Linked DNA regions of Homo sapiens. The protein of the gene in region 3 purifies or fractionates together with the protein of the main gene of each other region. This does not show direct contact. Each region holds a gene or a part of one and is shown on either strand. Other genes may lie near its edges.

Region 1 (4,782 bases), on a different chromosome or scaffold from region 3:
TCAAAGATCTAGAAGCAGGAATACCATTTGACTGAGCAATCCCATTACTGGGTATATACCCAAAGGAATATAAATCATTCTGTTATAAAGATACATGCACACGTATGTTCATTGCAGCACTATTCACATTAGCAAAGACGTGGAATCAACCTAAATGCCAGTCGATGATAGACTAGATAAAGAAAATGTGGTACATATGTACCATGAAATACTATGCAGCCATAAAAAGGAACGAGATCATGTTCTTTGCAGGGACATGATGGAGCTTGTAGCCATTATCCTCAGCAAACTAAGGCAGGAACAGAAAACCAAACACCTCATGTTCTTGCTTGTAAGTGGAAGTAGAATGATGAGAACACATGGATACATGCGGAGAACAACACATACTGGGGCCAGGTGCAGTAGCTCACACTTGTAATCCCAGCACTTTGGGAGGCCGAGGTGGGTGGATCACCTGAGGTTGGGAGTTTGAGACCAGCCCCTGACCAACATGGAGAAACCCCCGTCTCTACTAAAAAGACAAAATTGGCCGGGCGTGGTAGCGCATGCCTGTAATCCCAGCTACTTGGGAGGCTGAGGCAGGAGAATCACTTGAACCCAGGAGGCAGAGGTTGTGGTGAGCTGAGATCGCGCCATTGCACTCCAGCCTGGATAACAAGAGCAAAACTCCATCTCAAAAACAAAAAACAACAAAACACACATGCTGGGGTCTGTTGGGGGGGCAGGGGCAGGGAGAGCATTAGGAAGAATAGCTAATGCATGCTGGTCTTAATACCTAGGTGATGGGTTGATCTGTGCAGCAAACCCCCATGGCACATGTTTGCCTATGTAACAAACCTGCACATCCTGCACATGTACCCCAGAACTTAAAATAAAAATTGAAGGGAAAAAAAAGAAAAAAGAAATCTATACATGTGATAAAAGAGCATAAAATCATACAAACACTTTGTATCAATGTCAATACCTGGTTATATTGTTGTACTGTAGTTTCATAAGATGTCACTAAGAAGATAGGGAAACAGGACCTCTTTGTACTAACTTTACAACTGTTTGTGAATCTATATTTTTCAAAATAAAAAAAACAGGATAAAAACAGGGTAGCATTTGAGGAATGCTTTTTTAAGTCAGATGTTCTAAGTTGATATTAAGAATAAAACCTTTTAAAAACTGAACCTTTTTGAATTCAGAAATGTCCTGCATCCTCATGAAAACAGCATGTATTTTATCCTCCAAGAATTAGTTTTGGGAGAAGGGGACAAAAGCACTCACATTTTGACTGCCTACCTTTGCCCAGTAGATAGTAAGGGATTTTTGCATACTTTCTCACAGTAACCTGGGGAGGAGGTAGTGGGATCCTCATTTTATATTTGGGGAAATAATCCTAGAAAGATTAGGTAACTTAACCAAGATCCCACAGTTAGTAAGTAGTTGAGCTAAGATTCAGATCCAAGTCTGACTAGCTCCAAAGCTTGTACTTCTTCCTGCATCATTGGGCCTCCTCTGCAAATGGAATGCCATAAGTGTTTACAAGAGAAAATATTTTATTCCTGGAATGTGATCCACCCAGCAGTCGACAGTTGCCAGTGATGGCAGTATACTTGAGAAATGTTCCTTCTCAGTATCTCCTACAATTTGAATAAACTTCCACAAGATAATCATTTCAAAAGTTCTTTCAGATCTCTTGTTCAGTTCACAGCCTGCCTTGTCAGCCCACACATGAGTGAGGGACAGAAGCTCTGTGAAGCACTAAGATAACAGGCAGGTAGCAATGGGCTAGGAACCAAGGGTTGGGCTAATACACAATGATGGCACAGACTGCTTCTTAGACCACTCAAACCTGTGTCGTTTATTTGGAATTATCTTCAAAAGCTAATCATAGTAGCAGGTTAAATTGGGACAATTTTGCTTCACAAATGTATATAGGGTAGTTTATTATATAATAGAAGAATTAATAAATCTTGAAATTATTTTAATCATGTAAATATTTGCCTGTAACATAGTTTGTAGCCAGCTTCTTGGAGGCTTTCAAAAGACATGAGACATGAAAAGCTAAGTAGAACTTAAGTATAAATGGGGGTGTGGAGGGAAAACAAAAACAAATGAAAAAGTGATAAATTATAAGATGCTGCCTCCATGTGCAATATGAGAAAAGGGAGAGATTATTGAGAGCTGAAGGGACTAGAGAAACTTTCTTGAAAGGTGGCAGGATTGAGTAGCATTTGGGTAGTCAGATGAAGGAAAAAAACATTTTAGACCTGGAAATGGGAAATTGTGAAAAGACACGGCTTGGGCTATGCTATTAATATTAAACATTTCTCCTCTCAGGTTTCTGCCCCATTTGAAAGGACTTAAATGCTTCTAAAGCATATCCTTTTATGCCTTACACTTATCCTGTCTGTAGGCTTTTATAGTACCTTACAAGGCATGTCAAAGGGCAAAATTCTTTTACTTGTCTTAGTTTTTTGTTTGTTTGTTTTTGTTTGTTTTTTTAATGACTGTGGAACATTCTTAATCTCTGCAACACAAATTGCATTTTTCTCTGCTCATCTTTGTATTTGTGTGTGTGTGCACATGTGCTCAGGAAAGGAATAAACTATACATAGAAGTCTTACTTTTGTTCTTATAATAAAACAGACTGTAATATGTTTACTACTGTAGCAATATGTTTTAGTTTTTATTTAACTTTTAGGTTTTTTTATTGTAAAATATCAGTTCATCGGCATTATTAGTCATTAGGGAAATGCAAATTAAAACAACTATGGGATAGTACTTCATACTCACTTAGGGTGAGCAACTGCCACTGATTGCCTGGGATTGAAGTTAATTAAAACGAAAGTAAGTGCACAGTCTTGTTCAGGCCATAAGGTGTTGACCTATCCACCTGCTCGTGGATAGGTCCAGAATGCTCATATTTTTCCATAAACTGGACACACTGACAGAAATGTTTCCCTAAAACATACTTCTCTGTTCTAGCCAACCTATTCTCCTATAATAGTGTTTGTTTTTAGAAGGGTTGATAGGATTGCTTAGGCTAGGTAACTGCCACATAGTCTGTGTCTTCTGCTTGTCGTATGATTTGAATTGTTTAACTCATCGGGCAGGCCCTTATTCCCTTATCCTCAAGGAAATATGTTTGGAGGAGCTCTGAAGGAAAAGCGTGGGAAAAGGGACAAGAGTGAGGGAGGAATGTCTATCTCACTCTTGCCCCTATGTTTTACCTTCATGGTCAAGTTTCAAATTGTCATCTAGTAAGGAAATGTTTTTTAGAAAATGATCATCAATGATTTTTCCTTTGAGCTGTCAACACTTCTGTGAGCCTAAATTTAAGTTTTCCTGGTTTGAGCATGTGATTTTTGGTTCATAGGAAGATTGAGATTTAGTCTTAAAAGCATATAAATGACCTTAAGTACAAGCGCTAAAAGTTGGATTTGTAGACTTAATAATACATACATCTTGGATTTGATTTTAAGTAATTTTACTGTGTTTTAAATACTAACAGGTTGCTCTCAAGGGAGTGGTATTTTACACTATGCTCATGGCGACAGTCAGCAAACTCACCTGTTGAAGCAAGGTAAGAATGAAGCATTGGAGCATACTGTTCTTTTTCCTTTTCCTATCTTAAACATACATTTTTTAAATGTGCAGGAAGAAGCTCCATGGGCACTGGTCTCAGTGGTGGGAAACGTCCTAGTCAGGAAGAGGACACACAGAGTATTGGTCCTAAAGTCCAGAGACAGAGCACTAATTAGGTAAATATTTTAGAGCTGTATTTCTTGCTTTAGAAGAGTATATAATTAACATAAATTAAGATAATTTCAAAAATGGAGCAAATCTCTATTTTCAAACCAGAAAATCTTGAGGCATTAATTTTTAAGCAATTTTTACAAACTCAGTTAATTTTTGGTCAAGAGACATGCATCTGTACTGGAGAAATTGTTGCACCAGTTTTATATTCATCTGAACCAATGCTCTTTAAATTAGAGATGTTTATGATTTTGTGGTCAAGTTTTTTCTTAGAAAAAGACAACTTTTTTATTTCCTTACTATGTAACTATGAGTCTAAAACAATTAAAGTGGCCTGTTTATTTTAGTGACATTAATATAATCTTTTTATGAACTTTCCCCTAAATCTTTGCCTCTTAAATGTTGATAAATTTCTTTTATCTGTTATGATGCTTCTAAAATCTAAATTATTTCCAATTTGGGAATAGTTCAAAATTTTTTAAAATGCTGGCCCTTATTAGAAGTATCAGAAAGCCTTGCCTGCATTCAATTTAATTGGATTTGGGATGTCATTTTGTGATTTAAATTAATATGAAAAATATTTATACGTTGGATTTGCCAGTTTTTAAAAATTTTCTGTTTCTTCAGTTTCTAACACTGTTTACATTTTTTATTGCTTAGTTTTTTTATGTCAACCTAATTAGACTATAAGTATCTTGAAGATAAGGTCAATAAACACTCATCACATTTTTGTCATTGAATTATTTGCAATCAAGCTTTACCTAGTTTTTTTTTCCCCCTTAAATCACAGAAAACATTCAGGAGGAATACTGTTGCAGCTGAAATTGGTGGGGAGTTCAATACTTTTCAATTAAGTTATTTAAAAATATTCTTCATTGATGGAAAGCAGTTACATATTGAAATATGTTGTTTCTAATGACATTTCTGTGGTTTTTAACTTTTTAATGAATTTCACAGAGGACAATTGGTAATTTGTATATAAAGAACTTGGCAAGAGAATTTGCTTAATGTAAATATAAACAGTCACAATTAGTATAG
Region 2 (4,782 bases), on a different chromosome or scaffold from region 3:
AAAATGCCAAGATTTATCTTCAATCCTTTTGTAGACACTCCACATTCATGGATGTGTATATATATTTAGTCACACACGTGCCCAGACATGTTAGTCAGTTTACTTTCTCTGGCTACCACGGGGGCCACCATTTCTACTCTTGGTCAAAAAGAGACATTTGGAAATTGGGCATTCAGCAATTTTGGGAAATACCAGTGAATCCTGATTACGCTTGTGTGTTTTTACCACATAGTTAAAACAAGGTGAGAGTTGGGAGGTTCATTGTACAGTTGACTGTGAGTTGGGGATTTAAAAAAAATTCCTTTAATCTATCCCTAGCCAGTGTCCTTTCAAATGATCATTTATTGGAATGTTGTGATTTTAAAATCAGATTTTTTCCCCCCAATACATTTTATTCTTGTTTAGTGACAATGATAGAAGAAGAGAAATCATTGTGTGGGTTGTTAATATGACTAGTCATGGGTGCTCTTCACAGCTTCTGTTGGCTTTGTTCCAACCTGCAACATGCACCCGGGTGTGTAACCATAAACCGTTTTATAATGTTTTGGTAAAGTGGCCACAGTTTTTGCGGGGATAGACTGCCTGCCTAGTAACTTAGTTCCTTAATTTAATGAAGATTTTTTTTTCTAGTTCTTCTTAGTGAATCTGTATGTTCCTCTCTTATTGGTGGAGAGTAGTACAGTCATATAAATATATATTTTGTGGGTAGTTGAAATGTTCTTTTAGGTAGTGCCAGAGAATATCTGTGGTCTGCCTGTATTATTTGGAAATTGACTTCAAATGAATTTTCCATGGAAGCAGTGAAAGTGCCACACTTGTCATGGAGCTAGTGTGTGCAGGTGTGTGTGTGTGTGTGAGAAAGGGGCCTAGTGTTCAGTATACACATAGCATTTCCTGTTTTTCCAGTTAGAAGTGGCTCTGCCCTTGCCTCAATGTGACATGTGTTTTAACTCATGTGGCCTGATTTGCTTGTTTGATTTTTCTTACAGGTATTTTTCATTCCAGGATTCACTAGCGTTACAAGATCGAACTGTTTTGATTGTTCATCCCTGGTTGTTATCTCTACCAGCCTTTTTCTGAGTAATTTCAGTGTGAAGCATGCTGCTGTTTAGGTACTGTGAGTTATCCATAAAGGGACCAAATCGCAGGGCCCTTTAATTAAGCATACCGGCATATTAGCAAATACCTTTATACGTTTTGTGCCAGAGATACTTAAGTATCTTCATTTTCTTTGGACTTTTCATTTTACCAGATGGTATTAATTATTCACATATACCTTGTATTAGTGAGAGAACCAGAGAACCAGAACCAATAGAATATACATAGAAAAAAAGAGATTTATTACAAGGAATTGTCTTACATGATTATGGAGGCTGAGAAGTCCCATGATCTGCTGTCTCCAAGATGGAGACCCAGGAGAACCAATGGTATAAGTTCTAGTATAAGGTCAGGAAAATATAGATGTATTAGCTAAGCAGCTAGAGAGAGAGAGAGAGAAAGAGAGAGACAGAGAGAGAGACAGAGAGAATTCAATCTTTCTTCACCTTTTTGTTCCATTTGGGCCTTCTACTGGTTGGATAATGCCCACCCACATTGGGGAGGGCCTTTTCCTTTACTCAGTCCATCAATTCAATGCTGATTTCCTCCAGAAACACCCACAGGTACAGCCAGAAATAATGTTTAACAAGATATCTGGGCACCCCAGTAGACCAATCAAGTAGACACATAAAATTAACAATCACATATCTGTAATACAATCAGAGTCAGGTTTTGTTAAAACATTTTTGTAAAAGTATACTTCCCAAGTTGGTTTAAATGAGCTGACTCCAAGAGTGTTAACACCAGGTACCACTTCTCTAAGTCCTGCTTCTCTACAAAGTCTTTCTCAGTAGTGCTAGCAACATCATACTTTTTCCTTCCTGACCAACACTTCCTTTATTGAACCAATTGATGGCAGCATTTTTGGTGTATTCTTGGTTTTGTGAGTGTATCTTCTGTAAGACAGTAAGTTCATCCACAATGAAGACAGTATCTACTGGCATACCTTGGAGACAAATTGTGGGTTTGATTCCAGACCACCACCATAAAGTGAGTATTACAATAAAGTGAGTCACTTGAATTTTTTGGTTTCTGGGTGCATATAAAAATTATGCTTAAACTATACTGTAGTCTATTAAGTGTGCAATAGCATTGTCTAAGAAAACAATGTACATACCTTAATTAAAATACTTTATTGCTAAAAAATGCTGATGATCATCTGAGCCTTCAGCAAGTCATACTCTTTCTGCTGCTGGAGGTTCTTGCCTTAGTGTTGATGGCTGGTGACTGATCAGGGTGGCAGTTACTGCATGTTTGGGTAGCTGTGGCAGTTTCTTAAAATAAGACAGTAATGAAGTTTGCTGCATCAACTGACTCTTCCTTTCACCAAAGATTTCTCTAGAGCATGTGTTGCTGTTTGATAGCACTTTCCCCATAGTAGAACTTTCAAAATTGTAGTCAGTCTTCTCAAACCCTGCCACTGTTTTATCAACTAAGTTATGTAATATTCTAAATTGTTTGTTGTCCTTTCAACAGTGTTTAGAGCATCTTCAGCAGGAGTAGATTCCATCTCAAGAAATGAGTCTTTATTTTTTCATCCATAATAAGCAACTCCTCATCTGTTAGTTTTATCATGAGATTGCAGCAATTCAGTCACATCTTCAGGCTCCGCTTGTAACTCTAGTTCTCTTGCTATTTCCACCGGATCTGCAATTACTCCTCCATGGGAGTCTTGAACCTCTCAAAGTCATCTATGAGAGTTGGGATCAACTTCTTCCAAACTCCTGTTAATGTTAATATTTTGATCTCCTCCCATGAATCATGACCGTTCTTAATGGTATTTAGAATGGTGAATCCTTTCCAGAAGGTTTTTGATTTACTTTTCCACTTTTCCTGGATACATCAGAGCAATCAGTATCTATGGCAGCTATAGCCTTACAAAGGGTATTCCTTAAGTAATAAGACTTGAAAGTTGAAATTACTCATTGATCCATGTGCTGCAGAATGAATGTTGTGTTAGCAGGCATGAAAACAACATTTATGTCTTTGTACATCTCTATCAGAGCTTTTGGGTGACCAGGGGCATTGTAATTGAGCAGTAATATTTTGAAAGGAATCTTTTTCCTGAGCAGTGGGTCTCAACAATGGTCTTAAAATATTCAGTAGATCATACTGTAAACAGATGTGCTGTCATCCAGGCTTTGTTGTGTAGAGCACTGAGAGAGTAGACTTAGTATCATTCTTAAGAGCCCTGGGACATTCAGAATGGTAAGTCAGCATTGGCTTCAACTTCAAGTTACCAACTGCATTAGCTTCTAATGAGAGAGTCAGCCTGTCTTTTGAAGCTTTGAAGCCAGACATTGACTTCTCCCTCTAGCTATGAAAGTTTTGACCAGCAGTCCCCAACATTTTTGGCACCAGGGACCAGTTTTGTGGAAGACAGTTTTTCCACGGACTGGGGGATGGGGTGGGGGAGGGGGATGGTTTCATGATGATTCAAGCTCATTACATTTTTCATTAGATTCTCCTAAGAAGCACGCAACCCAGATCCCTTGCATGCACAGTTCACAATAAGGTTCGTGCTCCTTTGAGAATCTAATGCCTCCACTGATCTGACAGAAGATGGATTGCTTGCCTGCCACTCACCTCTTGCTGTGCAGCCTAGTTCCTAAACCCAGGGATTGGGGTCCCCTGTCCTAGATGACATCTTCTTCCAATATAAGGCCATTTTGTCTACACTGAAAACCTGTTGTCTAGTTGTAGCCATCTTCATCAATGATCTTAGCTCCATATTCTAGATAACTTGTGCAGCTTCTACATCAGCACTTGCTGCTTCACCTTGCACTTCTATGTTATGGAGATGGCTTCTTTCCTTAAATCTCATGAACTGCCGGGCACACTGGCTCATACCTGTAATCCCAGCACTTTGGGAGGCCAAGGTGGGTGGATCACTTGAGGTCAGGAGTTCAAGACCAGCCTGGCCAACATGGCGAAACCCTGTCTCTACTAAAGATGCAAAAATTAGCCAGGCCTGGTTGTGCGTGCCTGTAGTCCCAGCTACATGGGAGGCTGAGGCAGGAGAATTGCTTGAGCCCGGGAAGCGGAGATTGCAGTGAGCTGAGATCGCACCACTGCACTCCAGCCTGGGCGACAGAGCAAAACCCCATCTCAAACAAACAAACAAACCTCATGAACCAACGTCTGCTAGCTTTCAATTATTCCTTTGCAGCTCTGTCATCTCTCTCAGCCTTCATTGAAGAGAGTTAAGGCCTTGCTCTGGATTGGGCCTTGACTTACGGGAATATTGTGGCTGGTTTAATTTTTTATCCAGACCACTAAAACTGTCTCCCGAGAAGCGATAAGGCTGTTTTGCTTTCTCATCCTTTGTGAGTTAGCTGGAGTAGCAGTTTAAGTTTTCTTCAAGAACTTTCCTTTGCATGCCCAACTTGGTTCACTGTTTGGCTAAAGAGGCCTAGTTTTGACCTGTCGTGGCTTTTGACATGCCTTCCTCATTAAGCAAAATCATTTATAGCGGTTGATTTAAAGTGAGAGATGTGTGACTCTTCCCTTCACTTTAACACTTAGAGGCCTTTGTAGGGTTATTAATTGGCCTCATGTCAATATTGTTGTGTCTGAGAGGATAGGGAGGCCTGAGCAGAGGAAGAGATTGGGGCAGGGGCGGGGAGCAGTCAGTGGAGCAGTCAGAACACATACATTTATTGGTTATGTTTGCTATCTTTTGTG
Region 3 (4,782 bases):
TGTGAGGTGGACATGCGAGAGGTATCTTGTCGGCCTGTGAGGTCGGACGAGGAGATGTTGACGGGGGCCCCGCGGTGCAGCCGCATACTCACTTTCCGCTCTCTCTCCATGCCGGAGACGGGCCGGGGGGAGGTGTTAGCTGAGGACAGGGAGAGAAACGGAGTGGGCCGCCCCCGTCTGCTGCCTCTCACTCGGGGCTTTCTATGAGAGGCTGTGGCCAGAGAGGACCCTGGGCTGCCTGGACAGTCAGGACCTGGCTGTGGCCGATGGCCACCAACACTCAGATCCGGCCGGAGGGACACAAAGGGACATGGGAGCGAGGTCAAGGGGCTCACAGGGGAGGAACGTGAGATGCGGGAGGAATCACGCACACCAGCAGGTGCCGGCATTTCTAAAGGCGCCTGGGCAGCCTGGCTCATCCACCCTCAGGAGCGAGCATCGCCTGACACAGGGCACTTAGTGTCCACCACCAAGTACCCTGTTGTCCCCACCAACCCCAAGACACAAGAAGTCACCCCAGAGCCAGCCCCAGAGCGCTGGGAGGGGGGCACTCACCCGTGTGTGAGGTAGGGGTGAGGGGTGTGGGGGGAGCCACTTCCTGCGTCCCCCGCAGGCGGCCGGAGGCTGTGGAAGGGAGGCCGCGGGTAGCCGGGTTCCGCGAGTGTCTCAGCCGCTCCTCTCGGTCCCTGCGCTCCCGCTCGGCGTCATCGGCGGCCCGGCTGGCACCCTGAGGAGGCAGGAGGTGAGGCCGGAATGGAACCAGCTTTGGCAGAAAGCAACCCTAGGTCCTAGGCTGCCCCGGCCACGTGAGAAAATACCTACCAAAGGGCACTGGGACGAGACTGCCTGCAAAGCCCCCCACAGGCTGCACGTTTCTCCTCATGGGATGACAGCATCATCCCCACAAGGGGTCAGAGCCAGGCCTCTCAGCTCCCCCAACAATCGAAAAAACCCCACTCGCCATGGCATCTCCCTGTGGGCTCAGAACTTCCTTAAACTTCCAAATGGGCAGCAGCTACCCCCTGCTGCTCTGTGAACATGCTCACTAACACGTGCAGAAAGAGGAGAGGGACAGGAACCATCGGAGGCCAAAGACAGGCCCCAAATGGTGACAGCTGGGGAGGAAAGCGGGGTGGGGATGAGAGCGTTTGGTCGGACGAGGAGTACACTCAGGGTCCGGACCCTGCAGCCTCCAACAGCCTGTGCAGGTGTGGTGGCGTGGCCAGCAGCCGGCAGCCGGATCTGTGCTGCACTATCCAGATGCACGGGGGTGGGGAGGTCAGATTTTAAGCCGAGACAGCAACCTATGAAAAAGCAGATTCTAACTGCCAATGCTGTGCGGCAGGGGCCTGCAAACTACAGCCCCGGGGCCAAACCCAGGTGCCACTTCTTCCTGCAAGTACAGCTCATTGGACACAGCCACGTTCACCAGGCAACACACAGACCGACACACCTGCGGCTGCAGCACCGTGCGGCCAGCACCGCCCAGACTCCTCATGCTGCCATTTACGGAAAACGCTGGCCTAGCCTGCTCTGAGGGCCGGGTGACTCTAATGCCGCAGGAGGGTCGCTCTGATTCCTCCCGAGGCAGCACAGCCCCGGCAGAGGGACTGATCTGCCCTGCCGAGTGCACCCCTCCCGGCACCTGGGCCCCGAGGCTCGGGCCTGCCTCGCCTGCCATCTCTCCGGGGCCTCCAAGTACTCCCCACGCTGATGGGCACTTGGCAAGTAAGTCAAGATGAACAGAGTGCACCCCTCCCAGCATCTGGAGACCCCGCCCCTCCCTGGCCCCTGCACGACTACTGGACAAGGCTGCCGTTTTTGTACCCTCCCAAGAGGCAGTTCTGCTCCTCCATCAGACTGCTGCCTGGAAAAGCTCCAAATTCTATTTAAAACTGACAACAAAACAGTAAGTTTTTAATGAAGGAACACAACAGTTCCACAGGAGCTTCATTTCTGACAGCGGTGTCTGAAAAGTAATTCAGCTCAGACATGGACCCAGGGCTGGGCTGCCTGTTTTAGAGGCTCCACTGCATACTCACACCGCATCAAGAAAGCCACAGGGAAAATCAGCTCATGACAGGGTCAGTCAGGCTAGACGGGTAGCACCTCACCAGGCCCCAACCCCACTCATCTCGTGGGCACCACGACCATGTGGCACAGCGAATGGGAATGCGCACCCCCAGCCCCCACCCTCTGCCCCCAGGGCATGCTCTGGGCCCTAGCTCCGCTTGGTGACAGGGAGGGAAGGGGCCTCCTGCTGTCCACACCCAGGAATTCCATGGACCCCTCTGCGTTCCCTAATGGCGTCTTACTTCTTGGCACCCCTTTCTGGCAGGCAGACACCCACTCAGTCCAGGTCCTGCCCACTACACACTTGCCCTTCACAACCAGAGACACTCCCTATATGGTACAGCCCCTCAACAAGACGGCCGCCGGCCTCTCACTGACAAGCCATCCCCCGCACACCACACTCAGCGAACGTGCTGGCAGTGCGACTTACAAATTTGAGCATGTTCCAGTCGAACACGTAGTCATAGGAGAAGCCCTGGCGATGGAACAGATTCCGGAAAAGCTGCCGCAGGTACGAGTAGTCAGGCTTGTCGTCAAAACGCAAGGAACGGCAGAAATTCAGGTATGTGGCAAATTCGGCTACAAAACAAGAAACTCAAAGCTAACTCATGAAACCCAACTGCGACTCAAGGTGTCTCTGCCAACGTCGCTGTCTACCTCCTGCTGCTGCACACTCAAGGGGAGAAGGACAGATGCAAAACACCTGTCAGATTTCTAAGACCTGAAGCCTTGAGAAAGCATCGAAAAGTATTCAAGTCACGGCCGGGTGCGGCGGCTCACGCCTGTCACCCCAGCACTCTAGGAGGCTGAGGAGGGCGGATCACGAGGTCAGGAGATCAAGACCATCCTGGCTAACACAGTGAAACCCCATCTCTACTGAAAAAAAAAAAAAAAAAGTTCTAGAGCGTGGTGGCGGGCGCCTGTAGTCCCAGCTACCGGGGAGGCTGACGCAGGAGAATGGTATGAACCCGGGAGGCGGAGCTTGCAGTGAGCCGAGATCACGCCACTGCACTCTAGCCTTGGCGACAGAGTGAGACTGTGTCTTAAAAAAAAAAAAGAAGTCATAAAGCACAATTTAGTTTCATTTGAGGTGTGTATCCTGGGGCAATCCTACAAATGCAAAGGAAATCTCCCGAGCTCCTGGAGGGGGCCAGAGAGGGCAGCCACTGCAGAGAGAGGCCCCACCACTGCCTGTCCATCCCTTTCCAGCCACTTGGGGCCCTGAGGCTCGGGCCTGCCTTGCCTGCCATCTCTCCAGGGCCTCCAAGTACTCCCCACGCTGATGGGCACTTGGCAAGTAAGTCAAGATGAACAGGAGGGCAGGCTGTTACCTCCATACACAAAAGCGCCCCGCTTTCCTGCCACCACCCCTTTGGAAGGTGAGCAACTCTTCTGACAAAACCCAGACTGAGCCGTCTCGGCACACCCGACACATATGCAACCCCTGTGAGCAGCTCCGCTGAGAAGAGGCCTCCAGAGACTTACAAGGGTAGCCTTTACACAACACTTCGATGGGGGTGGACATTTTCTTCTCGCTAATCCTTTCGTATTTCTGTCTCTTGGTGGCAGCCTTCAGCCCCTGCCAGGGGAGAGAGCCCAGGTTGAAGTACATTAGCACGTAGCCCAGAGACTCCAAGTCATCTCTTCGGGATTGTTCTGAAAAGAAAAGGGAAAGGCGTGAAGAACGGCACTTGCGTGCTCACGTCAAAGCAAAAGACCCGGCTGGCCGTTCCAGTGGAGACTAGCCTCAGACACACATGCCCAGATCACTCCAGCTGGCACTTCCAGTGGAGACGAACCTCGGACACACATGCCCAGATCACTCTCACCCAGAGCTGCCCCTCATGCATACTAAGGAAATTCCCAAACACATCACAGGTGACTCAGAAATGTCCCAGCATCCGCCTGCCCCCATACACCTGGCAGTCACGAGCCAGCCTGTCTGCCGCAAAGGTCTGATGACACGCTTGCAGCCCCAGCTCCCCGAGAGGCTGGCCTCTCCCTGGGCTGAGGCATGGACGCGCCCAAAGGCACCCCAGGTCAGTGACCCCATGCCCAGGGGCTCACCAATTCCAAGGTGCGTGTTGATGGAGGCGTACCGCGCCGTCCCCGTGAGGTTCTTGTTCTCACGATAGGGGATGTGCTGGTGGGTGCGTGCATCCCGGTACTTCTTGGCCAGCCCGAAGTCGATGATGTACACCAGGTTGCCCTTCTTCCCCAGGCCCATGAGGAAGTTGTCTGGCTTCACATCCCGGTGGATGAAGTTCTTTGAATGAATGTATTCGATGCGACTGATCTGTGAGCAGAGCAAGGGCGCGAGATGGCACCCCAGGGCAGTCTCAGGGAGGGACCGCTCAACTGTGGGACACTACATCAGTGGCTGCATTGTTCCTGCCCCTCAGCCACAGCAGGGTAGTTTAACAATTAGCGAGGGGGATGCCGAACTGACCAAATTGTTCCCCCAGGTGCCTGCAGCAACCCTCCACACTCCACCCTCCACAGGCCTAGGCGCTTTGCCTTCAGCTCCCACAAAACAGAGAGGTGAGGCGACAGAGAGGGGACAACCCGCCACTAGACATCGGTCTCTCCCAGCACTGTTCTCTGCACAGACTACACACCAGGATTAGCAGAGAAACTGCACGGAGGTGCTTAGGAATCACGTGTGTTCCTGAGAGACTGAGGAACCCACTGAATGGAAACGTGCTATGC
Region 4 (4,782 bases), on a different chromosome or scaffold from region 3:
GAATTTGAATACCACCATTTTGTAACCCTCAATAATGATGCATTATGTATTGGTGACTGCTGACACCATAGAAGGAGGCAAGCATTATGTGCCCCCTGTAGTCTTGTCAAAGGGATCAAACCTGAGTCCAGTCCAGTTTCTGGTACTAGCCACCAATGTGCAGGTGATACACAGGACACAGCACTTGTTGAACTGCACCATGAGTATACAGTCAGCAAAATCCAGACTGTGGGAATCTTGGCAAGTCAGATGGCCTGGATTCTTTCCCAGAACAATGGAAAGGAAAAGAAAAAAATGGCATAAAATGTGCAGATTAAAAGAAAATTAAATAACATATTAAAGTTTTTTTTAAGGCCAGGCACAGTGACTCACACCTGTAATCTTAGCACTTTGGGAGGCCAAGGCAGGAGGATCTCTTGAACCTAGGAGTTCAAAACCAGCCTGGGCAACATGACAAGCCCTCATCTCTAAATAAAAACAAATTAGCCGGGTGTGGCAGCATGTGCCTGTAGTGCCAACTACTTGGGAGGCTGAGGTGGGAGAATCACTTAAGCCCAGGAAGTCATGCCACTGCACTCCTGCCTGGGTGACAGAGAGTGGGGTCTCAGAAATAAAAGAAAAAGAATCCCAGCACTTTGGGAGGCCGAGGCAGGTGGAGCACTTGAAGTCAGGAGTTCGAGACCAGCCTGGCCAACATAGTGAAACCTCATCTCTACTAAAAATACAAAAACTAGTTAGGCATGGTGGCGAGTGCCTGTAATCCCAGCTACTTGGGAGGTTGAGGCACGAGAATCGCTTGAACCTGGGAGGCGGAGGTTGCAGTGAGACGAGATCATGCCACTGCACTCCAGCCTGGTTGACAGAATGAGACTCTGTCTCAAAAAAAAAAGAAAACTGAGTAGCTGGGATTACAGGCTCCCACAATCATGCCTGGCTAATTGTTGTCCTTTTAGTAGAGACAGGGTTTCACCCTGTTGGCCTGACTGGTCTCAAACTCCTGACCGCAAGTGATCCTCCTGCCTCAGCCTCCCAAAGTGCTGGAATTACAGGCATGAGCCACCACACCCGGGCAGAAATAAAGTTTTTTAAATGGCCAAGACTAAATTGTAATACCTAGGAATGCACATTTGGGTAAAAAAAAAAAAGCTACTTAAACACAAAGAATAACTGTGAAAAGATAAAGTCCTTCCTTTCAAACGTTTTGCCAAAATAGAAAAATGTAAACATTTCAGAAATGCAGAACGTGTTTATTATAAAAGCTGAGGTAGGGGTTGCATATACTGGGGGGCAGGAGGGAACTATTCCTGGGATGAGCACATAGACTCTTGGGGTGGCTGTCAAAGCTCTGTTTCCCAAACCTTGGTGGCTATTGCGTGGATGTTTGCCTTAGAATAATTCATTAAGTCACACATGTGTGTGATTTTCTGTATCCAAGTTTCATTTAAAATAAAAATATTTTAAAAGCTGGGGGCTAGCAAGGGTGTGTACACGCAAAAATACCTAGTATCTGTTAGAAGTGCTTAACCTGATACCACAGGGGTTACCTGCAGAGGAGGAAGCCTTGAGGTTGCGACTTGAAGGAAGAGTCTCAGTTAACCAGGTGAAGGTGAGGGAAAGGAAGACAGTGGTCCAGAGGCAGCTGCTTGTGCAGAGGCAAAGGCCAGTGAGAGCAGATGCGTAAAGAAGAGGGGCAGCAGGAGGCGGAGGGTACAGTGAGCCGAGATCACACCACTGCACTCCACCCTGACCCTGTCTCAAAAAAAAGGGGCAAGAGACAGAGCTGGAAAGGCCTGGGTGCTGGGGAGCCACAGAAGCTTTCATGAAGATTTGGGCTCTGTCCTCAGAGCAACAGGAAGCCCACTGTGTACATTATCCCGAGCAACAGGCATTACATTACTCTGGTCCCAGCGTGGAGAATGAGTTAGCGGGGGATGGGAGTGGACGCAGGGAGGCCAGTCAGGAGGCTGCCACAGTTGTCCAGTCTAGATATGACCTTAGCCTGAACCAGGTTGGTGGCAGCAGGGAATGGAAAGAAAAGGACAGATTTGGGAAATATTTAGGCAGTAGAATTGACAGGACTTGGTGAGGGGACAAAGGTGATGGCTAGGATTGTGCCTTGGGCAGCTAGGTAGCTAGCAGTGTATTATCTGAGGTAGGGAGGCCAATGGAAGGGTGGGTTAAAAGAAAAGGGCACATCTCCCTTGAGCTGCCTGAGAGGCAGCCAAGTAGAGGTTTCTAGCAGGCAGCTGGGTGGAGCAATCTGGGCTAGAGCTATGGATGTGGTGGTTGTCTGCAAAGGGGTGGAACTGGGAGCCATGGGCCTGGATGAGCTTGCTGAGGCACACAGTTGAGTAGAGAACCTAGAGCTGAGCCCTGGGTACCCACATTTAAGGGAGAGGCAGAGGAGGTGGAGCTGATGAAAGACCAAGAGCGCCAGGCAGCTGGGAGATACCAGGAGATGTGGAGTCACAGAGGCCAAGGAATCAAGAGGATAAGACAGCACAGTTGGCAGGTATAGCGCTGCTGAGAGATCCCAAAATACAAGGTCAGAAAGTGCCTGCAGGACTCAGTGGCACAGAAGTCACAGGAGACTCTTGTGGGAACCAGCCTTGTGGTCACCTGAGGTTTGGAGTTAGAGACCAGCCTGGCCAACATGGCGAAACCCCATGTCTACTAAAAATACAAAAATTAGCCAGGTGTGGTGGCAGGTGCCTATAATCCCAGCTACTCAGGAGGCTGAAGAGAGTCAAGGTTGTGAAACAGTATCATGGAGAGGAGGAGAGGATGTTGGGAGTTAAGAAAGTGGAAATAGGCCGGGCACAGTGGCTCACACCTATAATCCCAGCACTTTGGGAGGCCAAGGTGGGCGATCAGGAGAATCCCTTGAACCCGGGAGGTGGAGGTTGCGGTGAGCCGAGATCACGCCACTGCACTCCAGCCTGGGTGACAAGAGCAAAACTCTGTCTCAAAAAAGAAAAAAAAATAAATAAAAAAAGTCGTGAGAGACTGCATGGAACAGCAAGTCAGGAAAGTAAAGTCCTATGCCAGCAACCAGTGATGATAAAAACATGACCAGTAATGTTATATGACACATGGCCCCAGAAATGAATGATTCCATTGGTCCCCAGGAATGGATTGGAAGTTTCCTCCTTCCCCAGCTGCTGTTGAACAATAATGCGAAGTCCCTGGTGTCTGTGATACAACCTCAGGGCCGCTAGTGACTAGAGAAGGGACTGAGATATTCTTTTCTGTAACATAGAAGCCTTGTTTCCTGCTGTATAATTAGAGAGTTCATTCAGTGCTTTCAGAATTCTTTCATATCTCATTTTAATCCACAGAAGATTGGAAATTTTGTTCTTATTTAATAGATACGTAGCTGAGGGAAGTAACAACGTGTTCACAGTCACCCCACAAATTAAAGAGCAAGTCAGAGAATGACATAGACTCGTTGTTTGGTCTGATGGTGGTTCCGTCTCAAAATCGGCTGGACAAGCACAGTGTTCCATGGCTCCATGGCTGGCTGTTCTGTGACCGTAGGCAGATTCCTTAACCACCCAATGCCTCCATTTTTTCCTCTGTTACATCCAAGCCTTTCCTTTTGCCACCTTCTCTTTCTGCTGTAGGCCTGGGTTGCCAACTATGAGAGACCCCGAATGAACGCCAACTCCCTCCTGGCCAGCCCCACAGGCCTCAGCCCCTACCTGCGCTTTGGTTGTCTCTCCTGCCGCCTCTTCTACTACCGCCTGTGGGACCTGTATAAAAAGGTAAGGGGGACATACCTGCCCACATTGCACCTAAGGCCTGCAGCCAGGCCTTTTGGGCTTGTCAGTCACCCTAAAAAAGGCACTGGTGGGTGGGGGTTGGGCTATGGCCCCTGGAAGGGCCTAAGTGTGTGCAGATAGTCCGGAGGAGGAGAGAAGACTCAATATCCAAGAGGGCAGAGCCAAGCACAGAGTGAACTGCCCACCAGAATGAAGCCCAGACCATCATGTAGAGCAGAAGGACAGGCAGAAAAGCAGGCCTCAGGTGTGACCCTAGAGGTGGCATATCCTCTGGCAGCTGGTGGACAGGGGCGAGGTCCCCAGGGTGAGAGGCATGGAGAGGGTGAGGCTGGAGCCAGTCTGAAGTGGAAGAGCATAGCTGCCCGCTCTGGAGCTGTGTCCACAGCATTCAAAAGGGGAGTCCAGGAACAGCAGTTGCCCATCAGTGATGGAGGGAGTGGTGTGGAGGGGCTGCACACAGGGCTGTGCTATACAGACAAGAAGCAAATAAGCCTGTGTTAACTGTCCCCAGAAGGAGAGAGGGCAACACAGTCAGCATTCAGAGGGATCACCTCATCTTGTGCCTATGTTTTTTGTTTCTGTTGTTTATTTAAGAGACAAAGTCTAGCTGTGTTACCCAGGCTAGAGTGTAGTGTGGCCTGATCACAGCTCACTGAAACCTCAGACTCCTGGGCTCAAGCAATCCCTCTGCCTCAGCCTCTCAAGTAGAGCTAATTTTTTACATTCTTTGTAGAGATAGGGTCTTGCTATGTTGCCCAGGCTGGTCTCGAACTCCTGGGCACAAGCAATTGTCCTGCCTTGGCCTCCCACAGTGCTGGGATTACAGCCGTGAGCCACCATGCCTAGCCGTTGTGTCTACATTTGTTTTTTTGTTTGTTTTTGAGACAGGATCTCATTCTGTCACCCAGGCTGGAGTACAGTGGTATGATCACAGCTCACTGCAGCCACAACCTTTCAGGCTCAGGTGATCCTCCTATCTCAGCCTCCCCAGCAGTTGGGA

The links. Proteins that work in one complex are often made in the same cells at the same time.
Region 1: the proteins of CSNK1D (region 3) and CRY1 purify together in Homo sapiens (affinity purification with mass spectrometry; 4 studies listed by BioGRID and IntAct, with this or other methods). This does not show direct contact.
Region 2: the proteins of CSNK1D (region 3) and FAM110B purify together in Homo sapiens (affinity purification with mass spectrometry; 4 studies listed by BioGRID and IntAct, with this or other methods). This does not show direct contact.
Region 4: the proteins of CSNK1D (region 3) and CRY2 purify together in Homo sapiens (affinity purification with mass spectrometry; 4 studies listed by BioGRID and IntAct, with this or other methods). This does not show direct contact.

What each region holds. Positions count from the first base shown.
Region 1 is NC_000012.12:106,991,754-106,996,535, reverse strand, and holds part of CRY1 (cryptochrome-1), read left to right. Parts: intron 1-3,499; coding exon 3,500-3,571; intron 3,572-3,645; coding exon 3,646-3,749; exon of another isoform or gene 3,750-4,534; coding exon of another isoform or gene 4,535-4,598; 3' UTR 4,599-4,782.
Region 2 is NC_000008.11:58,000,537-58,005,318, forward strand, and holds part of FAM110B (protein FAM110B), read left to right. Parts: intron 1-4,782. UniProt on the Homo sapiens protein: May be involved in tumor progression.
Region 3 is NC_000017.11:82,248,876-82,253,657, forward strand, and holds part of CSNK1D (casein kinase I isoform delta), read right to left. Parts: intron 4,370-4,782; coding exon 4,141-4,369; intron 3,730-4,140; coding exon 3,559-3,729; intron 2,653-3,558; coding exon 2,504-2,652; intron 1,305-2,503; exon of another isoform or gene 823-1,304; intron 728-822; coding exon 556-727; intron 140-555; coding exon 1-139. UniProt on the Homo sapiens protein: Essential serine/threonine-protein kinase that regulates diverse cellular growth and survival processes including Wnt signaling, DNA repair and circadian rhythms. It can phosphorylate a large number of proteins.
Region 4 is NC_000011.10:45,863,989-45,868,770, forward strand, and holds part of CRY2 (cryptochrome-2), read left to right. Parts: intron 1-3,623; coding exon 3,624-3,764; intron 3,765-4,782. UniProt on the Homo sapiens protein: Transcriptional repressor which forms a core component of the circadian clock.